Linked DNA regions of Homo sapiens: all the other regions are linked to region 2. The links come from fine-mapping of genetic effects on gene expression. A gene starts in region 2. Each other region holds a variant in brackets. All regions are shown on one strand. Distances are from middle to middle.

What was found. PIP is the estimated chance that this variant, and not a neighbour inherited with it, causes the effect.
Region 1: its variant is fine-mapped to the expression of GNA13 in whole blood (TOPMed, PIP above 0.99).
Region 3: its variant is fine-mapped to the expression of GNA13 in whole blood (TOPMed, PIP above 0.99).

Annotation. Positions count from the first base shown.
Region 1 is chr17:64,912,452-64,920,723 of GRCh38, forward strand. LRRC37A3 (leucine rich repeat containing 37 member A3) reads right to left here and starts at 7,027. Exons shown (of 15, transcript NM_199340.5): 1 at 6,980-7,027; 2 at 6,299-6,419. RefSeq lists silencers at 6,377-6,756, 6,827-6,916, 7,017-7,236 and enhancers at 6,852-7,352, 7,428-7,929, 7,930-8,272. The variant A/T (reference allele first, on the strand shown) is at 5,075.
Region 2 is chr17:65,052,535-65,060,534 of GRCh38, forward strand. It overlaps GNA13 (G protein subunit alpha 13), which reads right to left and starts at 4,206. Exons shown (of 4, transcript NM_006572.6): 1 at 3,777-4,206; 2 at 968-1,194. The coding sequence starts at 4,059. RefSeq lists silencers at 3,444-3,703, 3,984-4,493.
Region 3 is chr17:64,966,745-64,975,016 of GRCh38, forward strand. It overlaps the pseudogene AMZ2P1. Among named protein-coding and RNA genes, the nearest start is that of LRRC37A3, 51 kb to the left of the region's middle. RefSeq lists a silencer at 7,667-7,961. The variant G/A (reference allele first, on the strand shown) is at 4,403.

The DNA of each region.
Region 1 (8,272 bases), 140 kb before region 2:
AGTAGGTAGGTTAGGTATATATTTTGTAATTCCTACAGCAAAAACATAGCACAGATATAACCAAAAGCCAATTAATAAAACATAACACTAAAAAATATTCAGTTAATCCAAAAATAGGCAGAAAAAAGAAACAGAAGAAACCCCCCAAAAAAAGAAATAACCAGAAAACAAATAATAAAAAGGAAACCTAAATCCAATCATCATCAATCATATTAAATGTAAATGGTCCAAAACACATTAATTAAAAGACGCTGTCAGATTACATTTAAAAGAAAAACGAAAAAACAAGAAACCATTTGAAAATATAATGATATGGCCAAGTATGGTGGCTCACGCCTATAATCCCAGCGTTTTGGGAGGTTGAGGTGGGCAGGTGGCTTGAGCCCAGGAATTCAAGACCAGCCTGGGCAACATGGCAAAACCCCATCTCTATTTTTACAAATTAAAAAATAAATGAATATCATGATATCTAGATTAAAAGCAAAAGGGTAGAGAAAGATATGTCATTTTAACACTAGTCAAAAACAGTATTATACTACTAATATAAAACACTAATTTTATATTAATATTAAGTAATTTTTTTTTTTTTTCCCCCGAGATGGAGTCTTGCTCTGTTACCCAGGCTAGAGTGCAATGGCATGATCTTGGCTTACTGCAACCTCTGCCTCCCGGCTTCAAGCAATTCTCTGGCCTCAGCCTCCCAAGTACTTGGGATTACAGGCAGCTGCCACCGTGCCTGGCTAATTTTTGTATTTTTAGTAGAGACGGGGTTTCACCATCTTAGCCAGGCTGGTCTCGAACTCCCGACCTCAGGTGATTCACCTGCCTCGGCCTTCCAAAGTGCTGGGTTTACAGGCATGAGCCACTGCACCTGGCCTATTTTGGGTTTTTTTTTTTTTTTTCTTTTGAAATGGAGTCTTGCTCTGCTTCCCAGGCTGGGGTGCAGTGGCGTGATCTCGGCTCACTGCAATATCCAACTCCCGGATTCAAGTGATTATCTTGCCTCAACCTTCTGAGTAGCTGGGACTACAGACGTGTGCCACCACACTAGGCTATTTTTCTCTTTTTAGTAGAGATGGGGTTTCGCCATGTTGTCCGGTCTGGACTCGAACTCCTGACCTCAGGTGATCCACCCGCCTCGGCCTCCCAAAGTGCTGGGATTACAGGCATGAGCCACCATGTCTGGCCAAATAATGGTTTTTAATATAATGATTATTACCAGAAATAAAGGTTATTTCAGAATGATAAAGGGGTCAAATAATCAAGAGGACAAAACTGTAAATGTTTCTGCATCTAATAACAGTGCCTCAAAATACAGGAAGCATAAACAGACAGAATTTTAAGGAGAAAGAGAACAAACCCATAACAATCATTGCAGACTTCAACACTCCTTTCTCAGTAATCACTAGAACAAGCAGACAGGAAATCAGCAAGGATAGGGAAGACCTTAACACGATCAACCAACTTGACCTAATTATTATTTATGAAACACTTTACCTAAAGGCAGCAGAACACATCTTTCCTATTACAAACTGAACATTGACCTAAACAAACAATGTTTCAGGCCATATACAAACCTCTACATTTTTTTTTAATTCATCATAACGAGTATGTTCCCTAACCATAATGGAATTAAATTAGAAACCAACAACAAAGATGTCTGGGAAATCCCTAAATGTTTGAAAATTAAACAATACGTTTTAAAACAAATCATGGGTCAAAGAGTAAGTCATAGTAGAAATTTTACAATATTGTGAACCAAATGAAAATGAAAATAAAACATGTATCACAAATTCTAAGATATGTTTTTAAAAGTGCACAAAGGGGCTGGGCGCAGTGGCTCATGCCTGTAGTCCCATCACTTTGGGAGGCCAAGGCAGATGAATCACCCGAGGTCAGGAGTTCGAGACCAGCCTGGCCAACATGGTGAAACCTCATCTCTACTAAAAATACAAAAATTAGCTGGGCGTGGTGGTGGGTGCCTGTAATCCCAGCTACTTGGGAGGCTGAGGCACGAGAATAATTTCAACCTGGGAGGTGGAGGCTTCAGTGAGCCAAGATCGCACCACTGCACTCCAGCCTGGGCAACAGAGCAAGATTTTGTCTTTAAAAACAAAAACAAAAACAAAAAAACGCATAAAGGAGCACAGTGGTTTAGCCTGGAATCCCAGCACTTTGGGAGGCCAAGGCAGGAGGATTGCTTGAGCAAAAAAATTCAAGACCAGCCTGGGCAGTATAGTGAGAACTCATCTCTATTTAAAAAGAAAGAAAGAAAAATCAAAGAAAATGAGGTATACATGCACAAGAGGATATTATTCAGCCATTTAAAAAGTGAAGTCATCTATAAAGCTTAAGGTTTGGAAAATAAAATCTGTTTGCAGCAACATGGATAGAACTGGAGGACATTATGTTAAGTGAAATAGGCCAAGGGCAGAAAGACAAGTATCACATATTCTCATTCATATATGAGAGATTAAGAAGTTGATTTCATGGAGATAGGCAGTAGAATGATGGTTACCGGGGGCTGGGAAGCAGGTAGGGATGAAGACAAGTTGATTCATGGGCATAAAAACTCAGTCAGATAGAAGGAATACGTTTTAGTTTTTATTTGCACAGTAGGGTGACTAGAGTCAACAATAACTTAGTGTATATTTTAAAATAGCTAGAACATTTGTTATCTTCCCAATACAAAAAAAAGGATAAACATCTGAGATGATGGATACCCTAATTAACCTGATTTGATCATTACACACTGTATGAATCTATCAAAATATTGCATGTACCCTTATAAATATGTACACTCTACCTTAAGGAAACAGTGAAAAAAGGTGTGGAACAACGACCACAACAAAATCAAAGAGGAAAATCTTTGTGAACTTGGGTTTGTCAGGCCAGGAATCAGCAAACCATGGCCAATCCACTACCTGTTTTTCTAATAATCAAAACAATATAATTGATAATTTGTAAATTATGTGAAATTCAAACTGCAGTGTTCATAAAGTTTTATTGGAACAGCTATTATCATTCATTTACATATTGTCTATGACTGCTTTCATTGCTACAATGGCAGAGCTGCAACAGGGACAGCAAGGCTGAAATATTTACTATCTGACCTTTTACAGAAAAAGTCTGGCAAGGTCTGGGTTAGGTAGAGCTGTTAGATGAACACCAAATGTGTAAAAGAAAAAATGTGGTAAATCAGACTTCATCAAAATTTAAAACTTATGCTCTGGGAAAGAGACACCGCTAAGACAATGAAACACAAGGCACAGATGGGGAGAAAATGTATGAACATCACACAGCCTAACAAAGCACTTATATCCAAAATATATAAAGAATTCTTACTACCCAACAGTAAGAAATTGGCCAGGCATGGTGGCTCATGCCTGTAATCCCAGCACTTTGGGAGGCCAAGGTAGGCAGATTGCTTGAGCTCAGGAGTTCAAGACCAGCCTGGGCAACATAGCGAAACCCCATCTCTATTAAAAATACAAAAATTAGCCACACATGGTGGCATGCATCTGTGGTCCTAACTACTTCAGAGGCTGAGGTGGTGGGAGGATCACCTTGAACCTGGGGTCGAGGGGAATGACAGGCTGCAGTGAGCCAAGATCATGCCACTGCACTCCAGCGTGGGTGAAAGAACGAGACTCTGTCTAAAAAAATAAAAGAAGCCTGGCGTGGTGGCTCACGCCTGTAATCCCAGCACTCTGGGAGGCCGAGGCAGGAGGATCACAAGGTCAGGAGATCAAGACCATCCTGGCTAACATGGTGAAACCCCGTCTCTACTAAAAATACAAAAAATTAGCTGGGCGTGGTGGCGGGTGCCTGTAGTCCCAGCTACTTGGGAGGCTGAGGCAGGAGAATGGTGTGAACCCGGGAGGGGGAGCTTGCAGTGAGTCAAGATCGCGCCACTGCACTCCAGCCTGGCGACACAGCGAGACTCCGTCTCAAATAAATAAATAAATAAAATAAAATAAAAGAAGAATAACAATAAAGAAAGCAACCCAATTAAACATCTTAAATAAAGATTTTGGTATCTTGGCCAGGCATGGTGGCTCATGCCTGTAATCTCAGCACTTTGGGAGGCCGAGGCAGGCAGATCGCTTGAGCCCAGGATTCGAAATCAGTCTGGGCAACATATCAAAACCCCATCTCTATTAAAAAAAAAAAAAAAAAAAAACTAGCCAGGTGTGGTGGTGCGCACTTGCAATCCCAGTTACTTGGGAGGCCAAGAGGTGGGAGGATGGCTTGAACCCAGAAGGTGGCGGCTGCAGTGAGTGGTGACTGTGCCACTGCTCTCCAGCCTGGGCAACAGAGCAAGACTCTGTCTCAAAAAAAAAAAAAAGACTTTAGTATTTTTCCATAAACAATGATATACAGATGGCAAATCAAAAGATGCACATAAAAAGAGGCTCAGAACCATTAGTCATTAGGGACAAGGAAATTAAAACCAGAAGAAGCTACCACCATATACTTATTAAGGTGGCCAAAAAAAAAAAAAAAACTTGAGGCCGGGCGCAGTGGCTCACGTCTGTAATCCCAGCACTTTGGGAGGCCGAGGCGGGCAGATCACGAGGTCAGGATATCGAGACCATCCTCGCTAACATGGTGAAACCCCGTCTCTACTAAATATACACAAAAATTAGCCGGGCGTGGTGGTAGGCCCCTGTAGTCCCAGCTACACGGGAGGCTGAGGCAGGAGAATGGCATGAACCCGGGAGGCGGAGCTTGCAGTGAGCCGAGATCGCGCCACTGCACTCCAGCCTGGGTAACAGAGCCAGACTCCATCTCAAAAAAAAAAAAAAAAAAAAAAAAACCTGAAAATATCAAGTGCTAGGGAGGATACAGAGCAACCGGAACTCTTCATACATTTGCAGGTAAGAATGCAAAATGGTACAGCTACTTTGGAAAACAGTTTTGGCAGTTTCTTATAAACATACAACCCAGAAATCATACTCCTAGGTATTTACTCAAGAGAAACAAGAATTGTGTTCAGACAAAAAACATTATGGAAATGTTTACGGCAGCTTTATTCATAGGTGCCACAAACTAGAAATAATTGAAATATTCA[A/T]CTATTGAACAGATAAATGCACTGTGATACACTCATATAAAGGACTGCTACTCAGCAATAAAGAAACTACTGATACAACAACACAGATGAATCTTAAATACATTATGCACTGTACACGTATAAACTAAAAAATTAAAATACCTATTTAAAAGTCAAACAGGCCGGGCGCGATGGCTCACACCTGTAATCCCGGCACTATGGGAGGCCGAGGCCGGCGGATTACCTGAGGTCAGGAGTTCAAGACCAGCCTGGCCAACATGGTGAAACCCTGTCTCTACTGAAAATACCAAAAATTCGCCAGGCGTAGTGGCGGGCGCCTGTAATCCCAGCCACTCAGGAGGCTGAGACAGGAGAATCGCTTGAACCTGGGAAGCGGAGGTTGTGGTGAGCTGAGATCGCGCCACTGCACTCCACCCTGGGCAACAAGAGCGAAACTCTGTCTCAAAACTAAATAAATAAAGTCAAACAGTACATGAAAAAATAATATGATCAAGAGAGGTTCACTGCAAGAATGTAAGGGTGAATCAATATAAGATCTACTAATATAATTCTATGAATATACACTACTGTAATTAATATGTAGCATGCAGGAGGAAAACTATATGATCATCTTAAAAGATGCTAAGATGTCATTTAACAAAATATAATAGCCATATCTGATTTAAAAAAAAAAAACTTAAACAGAAAAAAAATTGAAATAGGTGAATATACTCAACACATTAAAGGTCTCAAACCAACAGTTAACCATTAAATATCTGCAACAGTTCCATTAAATTGGGATAGCATACTAAGATGCCTATCATTATAACTAACATTTGACATTGTTTTGGAGGAGGTGGTAGGGAATGCAATTTTTTTCTTTTTTCTTTATTACCCAGGTTCCCATCAATGGTAAAGGCAATGTAATTTGAAGAGAAAAAGGAGACATAAATATAAGAAAATCAGATGTGTACATGATTCATGTTTGCAGATGACAAAACTTTATTCCTAGAATAAAGTTATTCCAATCAAAGCAAAAGCTACAAGAAACAATTAGAAAAAAGAATAGGTGGCTGAATTCAAAATTAATTTTTTAAATTAATGAGTTTTCAACTAGAAGCCCCCTAGCAGAGCAGGTATTTTCATAGACAAATTAAAGATTAAATAAGATATCATGGCATAAGTGAAAATATTTAACAAATAAATTATACTTCATCCAATTTTGTAAAAAATACATACATATACCTGTGCCAGGTGCAGTGGCTCACGCCTATAATCCCAACACTTTGGGAAGCTGAGGCGGGCGGATCGCCTGAGCTCAGGAGTTCGACACCAGCCTGGGCAACACGGTGAAACTCCATCTCTACTAAAAAATACAAAAAATTAGCTGGGTGTGGCAGCGAGCACCTGTAGTGACTACACCACTTTGTTGACGGCCGTCCGGACCTGCAGCTGTCCGGGCCAGGTGGCTGCCCCCGCCTCCCCCCGGCCGGGGCGCTGGTGCTGGGGTGGGGCTGGCGGCGGCGGCGGCTTTCTCCGGCTACTGCTGCCCCCCCTGGGCGAGCTCAGCCGCGTCTTGGGCGCCACCTCAGCCTGGGCGGCGGCCCACCTGCCCCGGCTGCTGCCGCGGTGCCGCGAGCGGAACCCCGGATGGGTCCGGACGTGGGCGGCGGCGGCGGCGGCGGGGCCGGGGCGCAGCGCTCCGCAGAGGGAGCCGCGGGCTGCTTGGTCGGCCTGCCCCGCCGGCCCCTCATGTTGGAACCGAGGCGGAGGGAGAAGGGAAAGCGGCCGGGAAGGGGCGGGCGCAATGGGCGCAGTGGGGGCGGCCGGGGCCGGGTGGGGAGGCCAGAGGGGCAGGGCAGGAGGGGCCCGGCCTGCGGAAGCGGTTGGAGGGAGAAGGCTCAATCCGAATGGCTGGGGCCTCACTGCGGATCGCCTTCAGCCGCCATCTTGTTTCTTCCGTTACCGGAGCGCGGTCACGTGAGCTGAGCAGCCTACGAGCCTGGGACGGGGCGAGGTGGCGCGGCGGCCGCTAGGGGGAGCGCGGGAGCATTGAGTCGGGGGCGGAGAGCCTGGGGCGCCGGGGCTGGGCGCAGCGCGGCGCGGCTGGACTCCGGGCGCGGTGGCGCCGTTGAGAGAGACGCGCAGCTCGCGAAATGCCCCGCGGCTAAGGCCTTCGGAGACCATAGTCTCCGCGGACCCCTGGCTGGAGCCCAAAGCCGGCCGGACCTCCTCCCTGCGTCTCCCCTTCCGCGGCTCGGAGAGGAAGGCAGGAGAGCCCCCAAATATTCCCCTCCCGCCCCCTAGGGAAACTGAAGCTGAAAGAGCCAGCGAAAGAAAAAAAAAGTCTCGGAGTGGGGCGGCCCGAGCGACCTAAGGGACGGGGCAGCGCCAGCGACCGAGGGAAATTAGTCGGGGTGGGGGAACAGGGAGACAAGCCCCCAGAATTTAGGAAACTCCTAAATTCTACTAAAAATACAAAAATTACCTGGGCATGGTGGCGGGTGCCTGTAATCCTAGCTACTGAGGAGGCTGAGGCAGAAGAATCGCTTGAACCCCTGAGGTGGAGGTTGCAGTGAGCCAAGATTGCGCCATTGTACTCCAGCCTGGGCTGCAAGAGTGAGACTCCTTCTCAAAAAATAAAATAAAATAAATCAAGAAAAGTCTGGAAACCATGCCAACTGGTGAAATGAATAAAGAAATAAATGTTGTCTGGACTGAGTGGCTCACACCTCTAATCCCAGTACTTTGGAGGCCGAGGCGGGCAGATCACTTGAGGCCAGGAGTTCAAACCAGTCTGGGCAACATGGTGAAACCCTGTCTTTTCTACAATTGCAAACAAATTAGCCGGACGTGGTGGTGCATGCCTGTAATCCCAGCTACTCGGGATGCTGAGGCCCGAGAATCGCTTGAACCTGGGAGGCAGAGGTTGCAATGAACTAAGATAACGCCACTGCACTCCAGCCTGGGTGACAGAATGAGACTAGGTCTCAAAAAAAAAATTATAATTCAGTAACATAGTCAGTTACAAGATAAACATTGAGCCTGCCTCCTAGGTTCAAGCGATTCTCATGACTCAGCCTCCCGAGTTGCTGAGATTACAGGCGTGTGCCACCATGCCTGGATAATTTTTTGTACTTTTAGTGCAGACGGTGTTTCACCATGTTGGTCAGGCTGGCCTCCAACTCCTGACCTCAAGTAATCCACCCACCTCAGTCT
Region 2 (8,000 bases):
CACAGTCTAGATTTCTATCACTGCTGGAATCTTTCTGATCTTTGGCAAATAAAACCCAATCACAGCATTCACAGTTAAATTACAAAACACTTGATTAAAAATTTGTTTCAACTGTATTCTGTATCTTTAACCTGGATTGGATACTTTTATTCCAAACCTGTCTTCAATGCTGTGTAACAGCTACAAAGCATTTTATGGGTAGTCTCGTTAAAGAAAAAAGGGGAAAAATGCCTGGCACAATGCCAGCAATTTGGGAGGTCAAAGTGGGCACATTACCTGAGGTCAGGAGTTCAAGATCAGCCTGGCCAACATGGCGAAACTGCCTCTACTAAAAAGACAAAAATTAGCTAGGTGTGGTGGCACGCGCCTATAGACCCAGCTACACAGGAGGCTGAGGCAGGAGAGTTGCTTGAACCCTGGGGGCAGAGGTTGCAGTGGGCCAAGATCACACCACTGCACTCCAGCCTGGGCAACAGAGACTCCGTCTCAAAACAAACCCCCCAAAAACAAAAAAACAAATTTCTGAGGCTATAATTTTGGATAGATACATTAAATTATGGAAGTCAGTGAAAAAAGTGTGCTAAAATCAGATACAGGTTGAGTGTCCCTTATCCGAATGCCTGGGACCAGAAGTGTTTTGGATTTTGAATTTTTTCAGATTTTTGAAATATCTGCATACATATGAGATATGCTGGGAATGGGACTCAAGTCTAAACTAGAAATTCATTTATGTTTCATATATACCTTAAGATATGTAGCCTAAAGGTAATTTTATACACTATTTTTACACGTAGTCATTAGAGACTAGGACACATTAGGTCTGTGCCTTAGCCTTTCAGTCTGTTCCTCCATCTCAAATACTTTTAGATTTGGGAACATTTCGAATTTTCGCATTAGGGATGTGCAACCTGTATTACTAAACATCATTAAAATAAAACCACACGTTTTAAAAGAGCAAATCTCTTACCAGTTGAAATTCTCGACGCCGGTCATAGGCATTCTGTATGCCGCTGTCTGCCCATAATGCTCTTATAGCAGGAAGATATTGTAAGAAAACCCTTGTTTCCACCATTCCTTGGGCTGCCATGGGGGCCCGGGTATCAAACGACATCATCTTATCTCCATGTTGTTGGTTTGAGTTGTCTCCCCAGGGAATATGAAGCTTCTCTCGAGCATCAACCAGCACCCTCATACCTTTGTTTAAAAAGAAGAAAAAAAATGTATGGAGAGGAGTCATTACATATTATCATAAGTTTTTATTCCAGTATTATTTCCTTATACTTCTGAATTAACCTAGACAAACCTTCTTCAAAAATGAAGACCAACATCGAAAACAAATGTAACTTCTCAGAGGTTAAAAAAAATAACAGTTGCTCACTGTCTTAAAATTAGAGCCTTGAAAAGCAAATACTATTAGCACAATTCCTCTCTCTGAAGGATTTTTAACATGTTCCAATTTATAAAATAACTTCTAGGATAGAAGGTAGTCAAAAAACAATCTAACTCAAGAAAGAAAAAGAAGTTATGCTGCACAGACCAACAATGTCCAAGCTCAGAAGAAAACAGACACAACCAAGGTTTTATGAGCCTAAAAGATGTTCATTTATGAAACACTAAGAACCAACTACTATAGCTCCATGTTCTGTTTGTTGCTTCGGCACCCTAACCCAACATTGAGTCTTCTAGCAACACATTCAAAATTTAAAAACTTCTTCCAGCCCAAGTTTCAATCCAGTTTAAGTTACAGGATGGCCTTCAATTTCCCTAAAAGGGAGGAAGATCAACTGCAAAATAATACAAAGTCGGACTCCAACTCACAGAGGTTAGTTGAAACTCATTTTTCCTATCACTGATCTATTACTTTTATTAAGTTTGATCAATCTGAACAGTCACTTGGCTATTAGGAAGTCATCTGAATAACTGAAAAACGGGTGGGGTTTTTTTGTTTTTGTTTTTTAATAGAGACGAGGTCTGGCTATGTAGCCCAGCTGGTCTGGAACTCCTGGGCTCAAGCCATCCTCCCACTTTGGCCTCCCAAAGTGCTGGGATTGCAGGAGTGAGCCACCACGCCCAGCCTGAGAAACTGTTCTACTGTCAAATTTCATGTCAACTTGAAAAAACTAGATTCCTGATGACTTACATCATCTCATAATCAATGCTCAACGTAGATCACACTTACAACTCAGTGTACATTAAGAACGAGGTGTTTACCAGGCTCACAGTCAGTTAACATGTTGATGCTATTCATTAACATAATTCCTTAAGTTCAGCTGCATCAGGTTACAAAGGTACCTTCAATTAAGGACTGTCAAGGCAGAGTCTGCAGCCTTGAAAGAGACCTTAATTAGTTTTGAGCTAAACATTACAGCAGGATAAATACAACTGTTCTTTATAGTTTAACTGCAGAGGTACTAGGGCTAGAGCTGGCTGTGGTCTAGTGATTCTCTCTAATTCATTACTCCATAATGCCTGGCTCTTCAGGCAGTTTTCCTTTACCCAAACGCTGGAAGCTCGGGAGGCGGTTGGCGGGGAGGGGGCGGGGGGGTGACATGCAGAAGTCCCTTATGTACTTCCTGAACAAAAATCCCACTTAAAAAGACCTGCAATCTGTAGCAAACTCCTAAACTGCTCCCCAGATAAAATAAAATCCAGATGCACCTGAGTTACCAGGCGCTGCACCTAAATTTTGCCAAAATGCCTTTTCTATAGAACATACTTGACACGCAGAAACGAGTGTTAATTATCTTTCAAATGACAAAATAAAAACCATCTTTTCGATTTCTTTGAATGCCCAGAAATAAACAACTTGTTTATTTTTCACTTAAGAACAAAGTTTAATTTTAAAACTACTGTCAATAAAGAGCCGAGCCAATTATCTAACTCAACACTCATTCATTGTCTCCATCTGTACAGGATCCACATGACTTTTAGGCCAGTCTTCTTACTACTACATTTCATCTAAATAGAAGCAGTGGTACTCCCTTCCTGCCAGCCCCCAGTTACTTAGCGAAAAGGAGAGTGGAACGTGTTGCACAGAAATCACACGCAAACATCCTACCTGACCGTGACACTGGGGCGAAAAAGCACAGATGCTACATTTTCATGCTAACTGTATGGGTCCACTCTCTCCTGATTCCAGTACAGTCAACCTGACACTCCTCAAGTTTCATATTCTCGCCCAAAAGGAGGCTGTCACCCTACGCCCTTGACAAGAAGTCTCGGGCAAAAAGTTCCCTTATTGCGACGGTTCCAGAACTCGCTTGCTTAGGAGACGGCCAAGGAAGCAGGGAGTTGGGAGCGCATGCGACCCCATGTGACTCGGGTCACCCAGCCAGGGTAGCGAGGTTCGGCCCACATCGCCCGAGCAGGGGATGGGGGTGAAGCGGCTAGGGCTGCTATTGGTGTTCCTGCCTCATCCGCAGCGGGGAGGACAGGAGAGGTCTGCCCACACCCCGAGGCAGCACCCAGCTCGCCCCACTTCCCTCTCGCAGGGGGAGAGACCAGGACGCGGTGGGGGGTGGGGGAATGGCCGTGACGCCCACCGGGGAGACAAGCGGGAGAGCAGGGCGACCCCGAGCATCCTCTCGCCCTGGGGCGCGAGGGCACCCCGGGCGGGCAGGGCCAGTTGCCGGGGCGCGCCCCCTTCCCGCCAGCCCGCCCGCCGGGCCCGTTCCTTCGCCAGCGACACAGCGGACCAGGGCGGTGCCCCGCCCCGCACCCGCCGCCGCCCCAGCCCCCCTGCCCTTAACCCCCGGCCCCCATTCCCGGCCCGGCACCTTTGATCACGTTGCTGTAGATGGTGGGGCGGAACTCCTCGCGCGCGCGCTGGTCGAAGTCCTGCCCGTGGATGATCCGCATCTGCTTCAGGAAGGTGGACTTGCCGCTCTCGCCCGCGCCCAGCAGCAGGATCTTCACCAGCCGCTTCACATAGGTCTTTTCCCGAGACAGGCATTTGTCGATCTCCTTGGACTTGCGTTGCTGCTCGGCCTCGCCACTCGTCAGCAGGCAGCCGGGGAAGCACACGGACAGCACGGACCGCGACGGCAGGAAGTCCGCCATCTTGCCGCCGCCGCCGCCGCCTCGGCGGGCCCCTCCGGCTCCCTCCACCTCCTCCTCCGGCGGCGGGCGGCTCCGGCACCGAGGCTCGAGGGCGGGGAGCGCGGCGGCGGCCCGAGCGCGCCCAGGGAGGGAGGGAACCAGCGAACTGACTCGCAGGGCGGGCCGGGCAGGGCGGGCCAGGACAGCGGGGGAGGGAGGGAGGGAAGGAGGGCGGGCCCGGCCCCGGAGGGGCGGTGGCCCCGGAGCGTGCGCGCTCCCGCTGCCTCCCGGAGGCGCGCTCGCACGCCGCGGCCGCTTCTCCGCCTCCCGCCCTGGGCGGCGAGTCACGAGCTCGATGTGTCGCTCGGGTGCCCGCGCCCGCAGCCGCGGCCGGGCGCGCGGGGAGGGCTGAGGAACCGCGGTCACGTGGGCCAGGCTGGGGAGCCCGACTTTCTGTTTCCCTTTCATGGCCTGAGCCCACTTGTGGGCAGAAGGGCTCCTTCCCCAAGGCCGGGAGGCCGGAGACCAGGTCCCGGACGCGGTTCTTTGGGCTCCCACTTAGCCTCCCTTTCTCCCGCGTTGCGCGCCCGCTGCCCGCTGTCACCGCCCACCCGACCCATTTCGAGGCCACGGACTCGAAAGTTATTCGAACAGAACAGCCGGCGTGAGCCTGGCAGGCCTTTGGTGCATTTTCTTTATTTCATTTTATTTTTTCTCTTTTGAGACGGAGTCTCACCCTGTCGCCCAGGCTGGAGTGCATTGGCTCGATCTCGACTCACTGCAACCTCCGCCTCCCAGGTTCAAGCCATCCTTCCGCCTCAGCCTCCCGAGTAGCTGGGAGTACAGGCGTGTGCCATCATACCCGGCTAAATTTTTTGTATTTATTTTTAGATACAGGGGCTCCCCCCTATGTTGCCCAGGCTGGTCTCGAACTCCTGAGCTCAAGCGATCCTCTAGCCTCGGCCTCCCACAGTGCGGGGATTCCAGACAGAGCCACCAGGCCCAGGCCTGGTGTGTTTTCTTAAAGTGACTCCCTTGACCTTCTAGTCTCCGAATCCCAGAACGGTAACCAGACGTCGTCCACCCCCACTTCCAGCTCTTTCTGGCATTTTCAGACCCCTACCAGGGCTCTCTGTGAGGGGAAAGAACTGGAGTTGATGTTCACTTGAGACGTGCTACCAGGGGCATTTAATGGCTCACTCGTGCATTCCACCTGGGCTGTGATGTGACTTCAGGGACGCTTGGCCGCGCCGGAATTAGCGAGTGGCAGCAGGAGGGTGAGGTCATGGTGAAAATCCCCTACACCGGACACTGTGATGTAGGCTCTTCCCAACAAGGAAGCAGATACACAAACACAACGAGGAATGGGAGCACGCAAATTTTAGCTTTCCTGCCAGATTACAGAGGATATGACCCGTCCAGGGACTTTTTTTCTGTCCTAACAGCAGATTCAGGCCAGGACACCTGAAAGGAGGCCAGGAGACAAGCCACAAGTGACAGCTGTGGGTTGGCAGAGAAACTGCTTAACCGGGACCCCCGAGAGCCGACCTCTTCATTCTTAGTATTTAGTTTCAAGTGGAAAAAGCCACTTTGGTCTGTCCCTGTTTTGGGCAATGCAACGTAGCTTTGGGCTCCTGTGGCTCAGAAACTTCGTATGTATAAGGGAGCGGAGGTAAGAGGTCAGCATTCCAAGAAACTCCCGAACAGGTTTAAATTTTAAAATCGGTACTAATCAGTTACTCCCTGGGGTTGGGTTAATGACCGAGAAGCCTCGACTCAGTAGATTGGCTGCAGTAAACAATGCCTGTAGTAGGATTATCTCCTGTGGCTCTGGCAAGCCCAGAGGGTGGACAACCTACAATATACAAGTAGAGTAGGCTCACCTCCAATATCTGTGGATTGATAAGAGTCAGAATCACTGAGCAGTGCTGTCAGGCAAAATATATGGTAAAAGCCTGCCCTGGATGGAGAATTTTTCCATCATCTCATCTAGTGTTTGGGAGGCCCTGTTCTCTAACCATGCAAGGACTCGCCTCTCCCAGGATTGGGGCATAGAACCTGTCCCCGAGCACTGTTTCTGCATTGACCCCAGGTGCTAATCTGAACTCCAACAAAGAGGAGAGAAACTTGTAAGTTAGGTAGTTAACATCTTTTTTCAGAAGTGTGTGTAATATAATGGAAAACCAAGAATGCCTAGGAGGCAGGAAGGTATTCCTGCCCAGCCAGTTCATGTCGTGACATGCAGAGCAGCAGAGAAAGCTGTTTAAAGCCCTGCGTGTAAGCTTGCCTTGGAACAAACTTGGCTCACATCAAGTCTGGCTGTTCTAGTCAGTGTAGTTTTTAAAAAGAGACCTCTTTGACCTGAAAGTCAAATGAAGGAAGAAGAAGAAGAAGGAGGAAGGAGGAAGGAAGAAAGAAAGAAAAAGAAGGCCGGGCACAGTAGCTCATGCCTGTAATCCCAGCACTTTGGGAGGCTGATGCAGGCAGATGACTTGAGCCCAGGAGTTCGAGACCAGCCTGGCCAACATGGCGAAACTTCATCTCTACTAAAAATACAAAAATTAGTGGGGAGTGGTGGTGGGCGCTTGTAGTCCCAGCTACTCGGGAGGCTGAGGCAGGAGAATTGCTTGAACGTGGGAGGCGGAGGTTGCAGTGAGCCGAGATCAGGCCACTGCACTCCAGCATGGGTGACAGAGTGAGACTCTCTGTCTCAAAAAAAAAAAAAAAGAAAAAGAATGAATGAATGAAAGAAAGAAAAAGAGACCTCTTTGGGTCCAACCTAGGGGTTTGGCTGCAGCTGTCCAGCTTCTTCTAACTGGTGATCAAGACACCTTGTAAATTGTAAACATAAAAATGAGTTAGAGACTTGGTGGTTTCTCAAAGAGGTGAACATAGAATTGCCATATGACCCAGTAATTTTATCCTGGGTATACCCCCCAAAATACTAAAAAGAATTGAAAACAGTGTTCAAACAAAAACTTGTATACCCACGTTCATGGCAGCACCATTTATGGTAGCCAAGAGATTAGCCGGCTGCAGTGGTTCACGCCTGTAATCCAAACACTTAAGCCAGGAGTTTAAGAGCAGCCTGGGCAACATGGTGAAACCCTGTCTACAAAAAAATATATAAAAAGTAGGGGAAGGCGGTGTGCACCTGTGGTCCTAGCTACTCAGAAGGCTGAGGTGGGAAAATCGCTTGAGTCCAGGAAGCGGAGGCTGCAGTGAGCCAAAATTGCACCACTGCACTTCAGCCTGGGGAACAGAGCCAGACCCTGTCTCAAAAAAAAAAAAAAAAAAATAGCCAGATGTGGTGGCACATAGCTGTAGTTCTAGCTACTCAGGAGGCTGAGGCAGGAAGATTGCTTAAATGCAGGAGCTCAAGGCTACAGTGAGCTATGATCATGCCACTGAACTCTAAGTCTGTGTGACAGAGTGAGACCCTATCTCTAAAAAACAAGACACAAAGAGGGGAACAACAGACACTGGGACCTACTTGAGGGTGGAAGGCAGGAGGAGGGAGAGGATTAAAAAAAAAATACCTGGTCGGGTGCAGTGGTTCACACCTGTAATCCCAGCACTTTTCGGAGGCCGAGGCGGGCGGATCACCTGAGGTCAGGAGTTTGAGACCAGCCTGGCCAATATGATGAAACCCCATCTCTACTAAAAATACCAAAAATTAGGCGGGCATGGTGGCACGCGCCTGTAATCCCAGCTCCTCAGGAGGCTGAGACAGGAGAATTGTTTGAACCTGGGAGGCGGAGGTTGCAGTGAGCCGAGATCACGCCATTGCACTCTAGCCTGGGCAGCAAGAGCGAAACTCCGTCTCAAAAACCAAAACAAAACGAAACAAAACAAAAAACATATCGCATACTATACTTATTACCTGAGTGACTAAATAATCTGTACACCAAACTCGAGATGAGCAGTTTACCTGTATAACAAACCTGCATATGTACTCCTAA
Region 3 (8,272 bases), 86 kb before region 2:
CCTTATATCTTCTCCAGACAACCGTCATCCCCAATTTATTCACCTAGGCAAATCTTAGTTCAAAAGAGTTTGTGAGAAAGGCTGACCTACAGGACTAAAACCGTGCTTACATTGTAGGAAAATAAAAGAAAATGTAATCGAATGGACAATAATTTTTAAAGCACATTATTCAAGGAGGAATAAGCCCTGTAACAGAATCCATAAAACACCATGCTCCATCAGTCTCTTTTTGCTAACAGAATGACCAAGTATTCTCTCCAATTAATTTTAATAGCAAACCACCATTTCCTAAAATGACTTAAATGGGTTCAATCAAGTAGGAGAATGAATCCAAGGGAAACCACTGACTAGGGGTATAAAATGTGCCTTACATCATATTGCATACATCAAACAATCAAAGAATTTAGGCTTCAAATTACAAGAAAAAAAAATACCTTTAAGTCTTACCCTCAAGGTAAGATAGGAAAGTGGGAAATGCTGTCTGCTCACTGGCATTCCATAAAATATTCACTGTAATTTCTGGATTTCCAAGACACATCTATCTAGCAGAGGTGGTTTGTCAAGTCTGAGCTTTTCCACCTGTCCACCCCTGTAGCAATGGGGCTGATGTTCACAACCTGCAGACCATCATCAGCATTCATGGCACCCCGACAGATAACCCCATTAAACTCTCTCCCTGACTCAGGTAAACACTTCACAATGTGAGAAGGTGAGAAAGACATTATTACTGAAATAAACCTGAAAGCTGCTCTAAGTCTATAGAGAAAGTGTAACACTCACAAATATAAATACCATTACACACTATTTGTAAGATCCCTCATAAATGACTATGTTATAGCTGAGACCTGCAACGGAACTCCCACCACCAAATGTTGTGGTAGTGTAAGGACCATTGTTATTTTCACTTGCAAATATTCCTGAGAGGTCGTATTTTAAGCTGCTAAAAACTAAAACAGGAATAAGGTGACAACCAGCAAAAGAAAAAAAATGAGCTAATGCACTCGAGAGAGTAAGGAAGGCTCACGGAAGAGGAGGGCTGTGGTGATCAGAGTCCACGGACGTCCAAAAATGTGACTTGGCTGGCCCTAACAGAGGGGAGCAGCTCTTCTAAAAACAAAATCACCCCCTGGAAATTATGTTGGTTGGTTCCTTGGGGCATCTACAGTTCTTTTTCAAGTTATTTACTTGCTCATTACCGCCAGTCCCAGCTTTCTTGGGAGACCTAAACATATTTGGGGAATGGAAATAATGTGCTTGCTGCCACAGACCAGGCCAGTAAGATGAGAAGATAAAGAGTTTCTAGAGTTTTTATTATTCAAAATGAGTTTCATTTCAATTCAGGTACTTGAAAGAAGGTTCTAGTCTGTTACTTTGACACAGCACAAGATCAATAGTTTATTCTGATGAAGTATTCCACCCAAATGAAAGCATAACATGCAAGTAGTCATTTATTTCAATCACTCCTATTTGAAGGTCCTTATTTTTGGAGAACAGTCAGGCATTTTATTATCCACTCTTTCCATTCCTTAAAGGCTTCCTTCCACGGGTTTCAGTAAATTCCCATTATCCTCACGACTGTGTTCTGGAGTTGCTCCAGGTGTGCCAGAAGATTCATCATCAATCCACCTCACCAGTGCCTGGAAAAGCATTGAAAGATGCGCACTTCAACAAACCACAGCAAAATACCATCAGGCAAGAGAGAAGCATTGGCTTCTAGATCATAGGGTGACATATTACCCCATGAAGACGCTGCATTTGATAATGATGCTGTGAATATGAATAATGCTAATGATATACTGAGTGAAATGGCACGTACCAAATACACACAGAATTACAAATGATGTCAAAAGTACGCACTGAAAAAAGATGAAAAAGAAATACACTCATTCTTATACTTTGTTTCTAGCATGATAGGATATTTTTTCTCAACTTGCTGAATATTCTACAAGGCATTATATTAATTTGACATGTATGTATATACATATATAAGTGTCCACACAGGCATGGGTAGACATATGTATGTGAAAACACATGTGTAGACATTTCTGTGCAGTCACCTGAATGCAGTCATACCCATGAGTAAACACATGAATGTATATTGATGTTTGTGGGCAAGTGTGGGCACACACACACATACTGAGATTAGGTACTTTCCTTCTTCCTTTTTAAAGAAAATCACTTTTTTCCTCCTAATGAACATCATACCTCTGTCCCATATTTGGAAAGATAAATCCTGTCCTCACACTTATAGGGTTTAAAAAATGAACTTTGCCACACATATCAATATTTATTCAGTTTTGCAAAGTCAAGCTCTCTTGCCCTAAATGGAAGAGAAGCAGAAAATTTCTTCCACTATTTCTCATTGAACTGTAAGCATAAATCACTCTAAGGCAAGCTGAAGTTTTTAAGAAGGGCATTTCTTCGCATGTTTTTAAACCACAGCTTCCTGCTTATCTTTACACTAATTTCCTCTGATAAATTATAACTCTAGAGAAGGATATAATAGATACATCAGTTTGCTACTCAGATAACCACTTCCCCCTCTTTACACTATCCATCCCTCAACTTACTTTATATCTTTCTACAATGCTGAAGCCAATAACAGCACACTGCAACTTGTGCAAACAGATAGGGCAAAGGTTTAGAGGGCGCCGGTCAGCTTCTTCCAAGTGGAAGAAGCCCCAGATTTCCCTATCAAAATCCTTTGCTGCTATCCACCATGCCTTGTCTTGTAAAACTTAATGGGCTGGAGGTCAAATACTTGAGAAACTGAAGTTTCAGAGTCTTTTCCCACAAAAGAAGTCTTTTTCTGAAAGTAGCAAGTACTCCAAATCAAGTACTCAAAAAGGAACCACAAAAACTAATCACATGGGTCAGGCATGGTGGCTCATGCCTGCAATCCCAGCACTTTGGGAGGCCAAGGTGGGCGGATCACCTGAGGTCAGGAGTTCAAGACCAGCCTGGCTAACATGGTGAAATCCTGTCTCTACAAAAATACAAAAATTTGCCAGGCATGATGGTAGGCGCCTATAATCCCAGCTACTCAGGAGGTTGAGGCAGGAAAATGGCTTGAACCCGGGAGGCGGAGTTGCAGTGAGCCGAGATCCCGCCATTGCACTCCAGCCTGGCGACAGAGCGAGACTCCATCTCAATAAATAAATAAATAAATAAACAAATAAAATAAAATAAATCACATCAACAATAGGCAGTCATGATTTCACTCTTTAAGGACACGCTAAACAGATCTGTTACACGTGTGCCTGGAGGGGTTGCTGGCCTTCCCTCACGCAGCACTGACTGAGGACAACTGCCCTGATGTCTTGAAGCCCATGCTTTAAACCACGGCTTTAGACAGAATAACCTCGTCCCCTTCCCCACCCCCACCCCCTTTTTAAAGAGCAGCTCAACTCTATTCTGTCACTAGTGTCTGGTGACCAGAATAAATACCCTTGTAACTGACTTCCTGTGTTACATTTAGAGTTATATCAACCATCTCTGCAAGCACAGAGAACACGGTTTGCTACGTAACTCACCCTACAGGGTACTGCTTCACAATTCGACTTGTTTACATGATCACTTTTATTTATGTCTCTCGTTCAGTTTTTATTTTAAAGTAATAAATTTTTAAAGAAAATAACCCATGGTAGGTTTGTTCAATCTAATTTGATTCAAAAACAACTTCCTCACCTCCCTTTACCCAGAAAATGTGGACTGATATTCGAAAATTAGGGAAAATAGCATTCTAGAAGTTAAGAAAACACTAAATCTATTCATGTATCACAAGTAACCCCCTCTGGCCAATCAAGTGTGAGCATATTTCACTACAGTAATACTTTCAGCAAGGACATTTCTTTCTTCCAATAATCCTACAAATAGAAGATTATTTTCTTTCGTAGTCAATGCTTCTCAATTTAAAAATATGAATCTTTGTAAACTTGGAGAAAACAAGACCACTGTGTTAAGATATTGTCACTGTCTAATCCTGCCACTTTCCTATGTAAATCTTTCATGTCATGTAATATTTAAGAAACTTACAAAAAAAAGAATTAAAGTAAAAACAGTTTGGGGAAATGTTTCCTGACCTCCTCAAATACATAAGATAAGTTAGCTAGTAATATCTAGATAAACGAACATATGGTTTGAAAATTATTTTTTTAGCTGGGTGTGGTGACTCACACCTTTTATCAAAGCACTTTGGGAGGCTGAGGTGGGAGGCTCGCTTGAGCCCAGGAATTCAAGATGAGCTTGAGCAACACAGGGAGATCCCATCTCGACAAAAAAAATAAAATAAAATAGCTGGGTGTGGTGGTCCTGTGGTCCCAGCTACTCAGGAGGCTGAGGCGAGGCAGGAGGATCCCTTCAGCCCAGGAGGCTGAGGTTGCAGTGACCCATGATCAGCCTG[G/A]GTGATAGAGGGAGACCCTGTATCAAAAGAAAAATGAAAGGTAGATAAAATTAATTTTTAATGTTTCCGTCTCTATCAGGTTAATAATAAGAGAGAAAACTTATGATAAAAAGCTACCTCACACCACCAAAATCAGTAAGAGAGTAGTGACCCACGTCTCCAAGACTGCATGTTGGTAGGGCCATGGGGGGCCACAAGTAAACCTCACATAAATGGAGAATAAAGAATAAACGAGTAAGTGGGAAGAGGCTCTATAGCCCTACAGCCCCCACCTCTAGTAGAAACATTTGTCCCAAAAAGCTTACCACCCCACACAAATCCTAAGGCTAATGTAACATCCAGACAGACCATAAACTCTCAGGATAGTCCCTGTACTTACTCCCCATCCCCAGAACACTAATGAACCACTCCCCTTAGGGGGCCTTTTCCCTTTCAAGTCTGTCTTGGATTATTGGGGATGAAGTTAGAGAAGTAAGAGCAAAAATGAAGGGGAGGGGAGAAGTAGAGAGATGACAAAAAAAGGTTAAAAATATAACCTGTTTCGTGAACCTTTCCCATCCCCAATATTACCATGCAGAGTTCCTAATGAGTCAATGTTTACTATGTATCTCAAATCAAAGATGGAAGTTTTTACTTTTTAAATTAAAAAACAAACAAAAAACAAATGTCGTATGATGAGAAAGAAGCAACACTTAGTCTATGGCTATCCTAACTGTGCAAGATGACTATGAAAAGAATTGAAAAACAATTAGCAAGATTTTCACATCCATTAATGATAGCTCAAACTGTAATTGGCTTAATTCACCTTGCTACTGAATTACTGACGTTTACTAGCTGTTATGCTGAATGCCTATATATGTGCCAGGCCTATATATGCTTTTTTTTTTTTGAGACACGGTCTCAATTTATTGCCCAGGCTGGAGTACAGTGGTGCGATCACGGCTCACTGCAGCCTCAACCTCCTGGGCTCAAGCAATCCTCTCGCCTCAGCCTCCTGCATAGCTAGGACTACAGGTGTGTGCCACCATGCCCAGCTAATTTAGTTTTTTTAATTTTTATTTTTTGTAGACATGTAGTCTCACTATGTTGTCCAGGCTTATCCACACTTTTTATGTACAGGCACTTTTATGTAAATTATCTCCAAATGACTCCATGATGTGGGTATTGTTACCTTTAAGGTCCTGTAGGTAGTGAGTGGCCAACCAGAACCTAGATTATCACAATCTACCAACAGCACACTTCCCATTATGGCATAATGTCTCAACTGAAAATACTATAGTTTTAAATATCAATATGATTCTTGGTTGGAATTTTTTTCCCTCTTTTAACATCTTCAAATATTCTCAAGTTGAAGAAGCTTCTAACAACAATGCCAAAAACGGAATACCATCTGTCAAAGAGGCCTGTCCAAAGACAAAATTCCACAAGTCTCTTGGGTAAAGATCAATCATTGTTATTCCCACAACACAGAAGGCATCTTCAGGTTTCTTCTTTTTCAAGAACTTCAGGATGTCCCCTATTTAAGAAGAAATACATAAATGTATGAGTGTATATTATATACATATGCTTCCTTTACTCAGTTCAAATTGCAAAGTTGTGTAATTCACCTGCATGAATTTGTAGGTTTTGTGTGTTCTCATTGACTCTAAAGGAACACCTTGTTGTAGAAACAGGAACTGGTTCTAGCAGTTTTACTCTCAAGCGATAGAAATATGCTTTACAGTAGCCCGTGAGCCATTTAATATATTCTTCACTGATAATTCTGGTGCTTCATAGAGATCCTATAATATGGAAGAACATTTAAAAACAGACTTTAAGACGATTATTCAGTGTTTACCCAGTCTATGAGTAAGAGGATTCAAATTAGAAACAAAACCAACTCTAAATTTTCAATACACCTTTAACATTCATCGGTGTTGATATGAATTAAAAAAAAATGTTCTAGGTCTGTTTGGCTACAAAACTTGTACCATTGCAATGAATATCAAAAATGATCCTAAAATGGCCCATCTGAATCAGACCAATAGCCCGGACTATTCCTGACAACAGAACCATTGCAAAACCGAACCAAAACTAGCACATTACCAGTATTTACCAATGGACCGTATATAAATACTGCGTTTGTCTGGAGAGGGTATCTTTCTGTAAGGATGACTGAAGAACTGTTCAAAGTCTTGGGGGGCCTCAGGGTGGGAGGTGATCCAATCTGATGGAGAATGCAAGGTCCAAAGAGATCACTGGCTGGCTGGAATGCTTCATTCATTAAACGCTGTTCCCCAGCATCTACTTTCTCATACTGTGACACAAGCACTGGATTCTTTGAGATGACAGCTATTTTTAGTGTCTGTTCGGAATACCGTACTATTTGCATCTAACAAAAAAATACAAGCAGTCAAATATAAAAATACATATCCATATTGGGGACTTTACCTATTCTCCATATACAGCTCTGATTTCTCCCTAGAGTGAAATGACTGACTGCTAATGCTTTAGAGTGGTCACACTTAGAGTGGTTTCCTCATGTCCAATCAATTTCTTGGGGACCTAAGAAATTACAAAGACAATCATGAAATCCATTCCTCCATCTCATATGGAACCTGCTCCCATTACAAAAACTAGTGGTGGCCAGGCGTGGTGGCTCATGCCTGTAATTTCAGCACTTTGGGATAGGAGGACTGCTTGAGGCCAGGAGTTTGAGAACAGCTTGGGCAACATGGTGAGACCCTGTCTCTACAAAAAACTTAAAAATTCCCTGGGCATAGTGGTGCACACCTGTGGTCCTAGCTACCAGGGAGGCTGAGGTTGCAGTGAGCCATGATCGTGCCACTGCACTCCAGCCTGGGCAAGAGTCCAAAACAAACAAAAAAATCTCATGGTGACCATAGGAGCAGGACCTCACACCCAATTTCCTTCTTTTGGGGAATAATATTGGCCTGGCATGGTGGCTCATGCTTATAATCCCAGCACTTTGGGAAGCCAAGGCAGAAGGATTACTTGAGCCTAGGAGTTTGAGATCAGCCTGGGCATCATGGCAAAACCCCATATCTACAAAAAAATTAGCCGGGCATGGTGGTGTGCACTTGTAGTCCCAGCTACTTGGGAGGCTAAGGTGGGAGGATCATCTGAGCCCAGGAGGTCGAGGCTGCAGTGGGCTGTGATCGTGCCACTGCACTCCAGCCTGGGCAACAGAGACTTTGTCTCAAAAAATCATATTATGAATTAACTCATTAGTGCCACATGAAAAATACTCCTCGTTTCTAGTGTGACTCAAAGATCTTCAACATCAAATAAAAACAAAACTAATGTAAGCCCTATCATTTCTGCAATTTAACTGCAGGCTGAGAAGCTACGGCTTAGTCACATCACATTAGGGAAGACATCAGATGACTAATCAAAAGCCAGACTCACAATGACAGGTTTCTTCCATTCACATCGTGTTCCTATGTAGAGTTTTCATCCTTCCTCTTGAAAAGGGTCAGATGTTCCACCACGAGACTTTTTGAATTACACAAGGAAAAACCTGAACATCTCTGTCTGGATCATCTCTGTCATATTTTCTAATTATCTAGATTTTGCCAGTTTAATGATAGACAACTGATGGGAAAACTTAAGCTAATGTCTGTTCTGATTGAACCTCTGAATTCTGGGGTTGAAGAGGCTGGCTGAAATTCCAGATCAAATGTCTCTGTACTCAAAGCTCTGATAAGAGCATAAGCTCATCCTCACTCCTACACAACTGGGCTGAAATCTGACTTCTACAGGACAAAATATAAAACCAGATGTACCTTCCAGTGGTCTACCTACCTTGATTAGGAAGGAAGGCTCCCATGGAAGCTTTTATCTCACAAGGACAGACATGTCTGGGCCTGG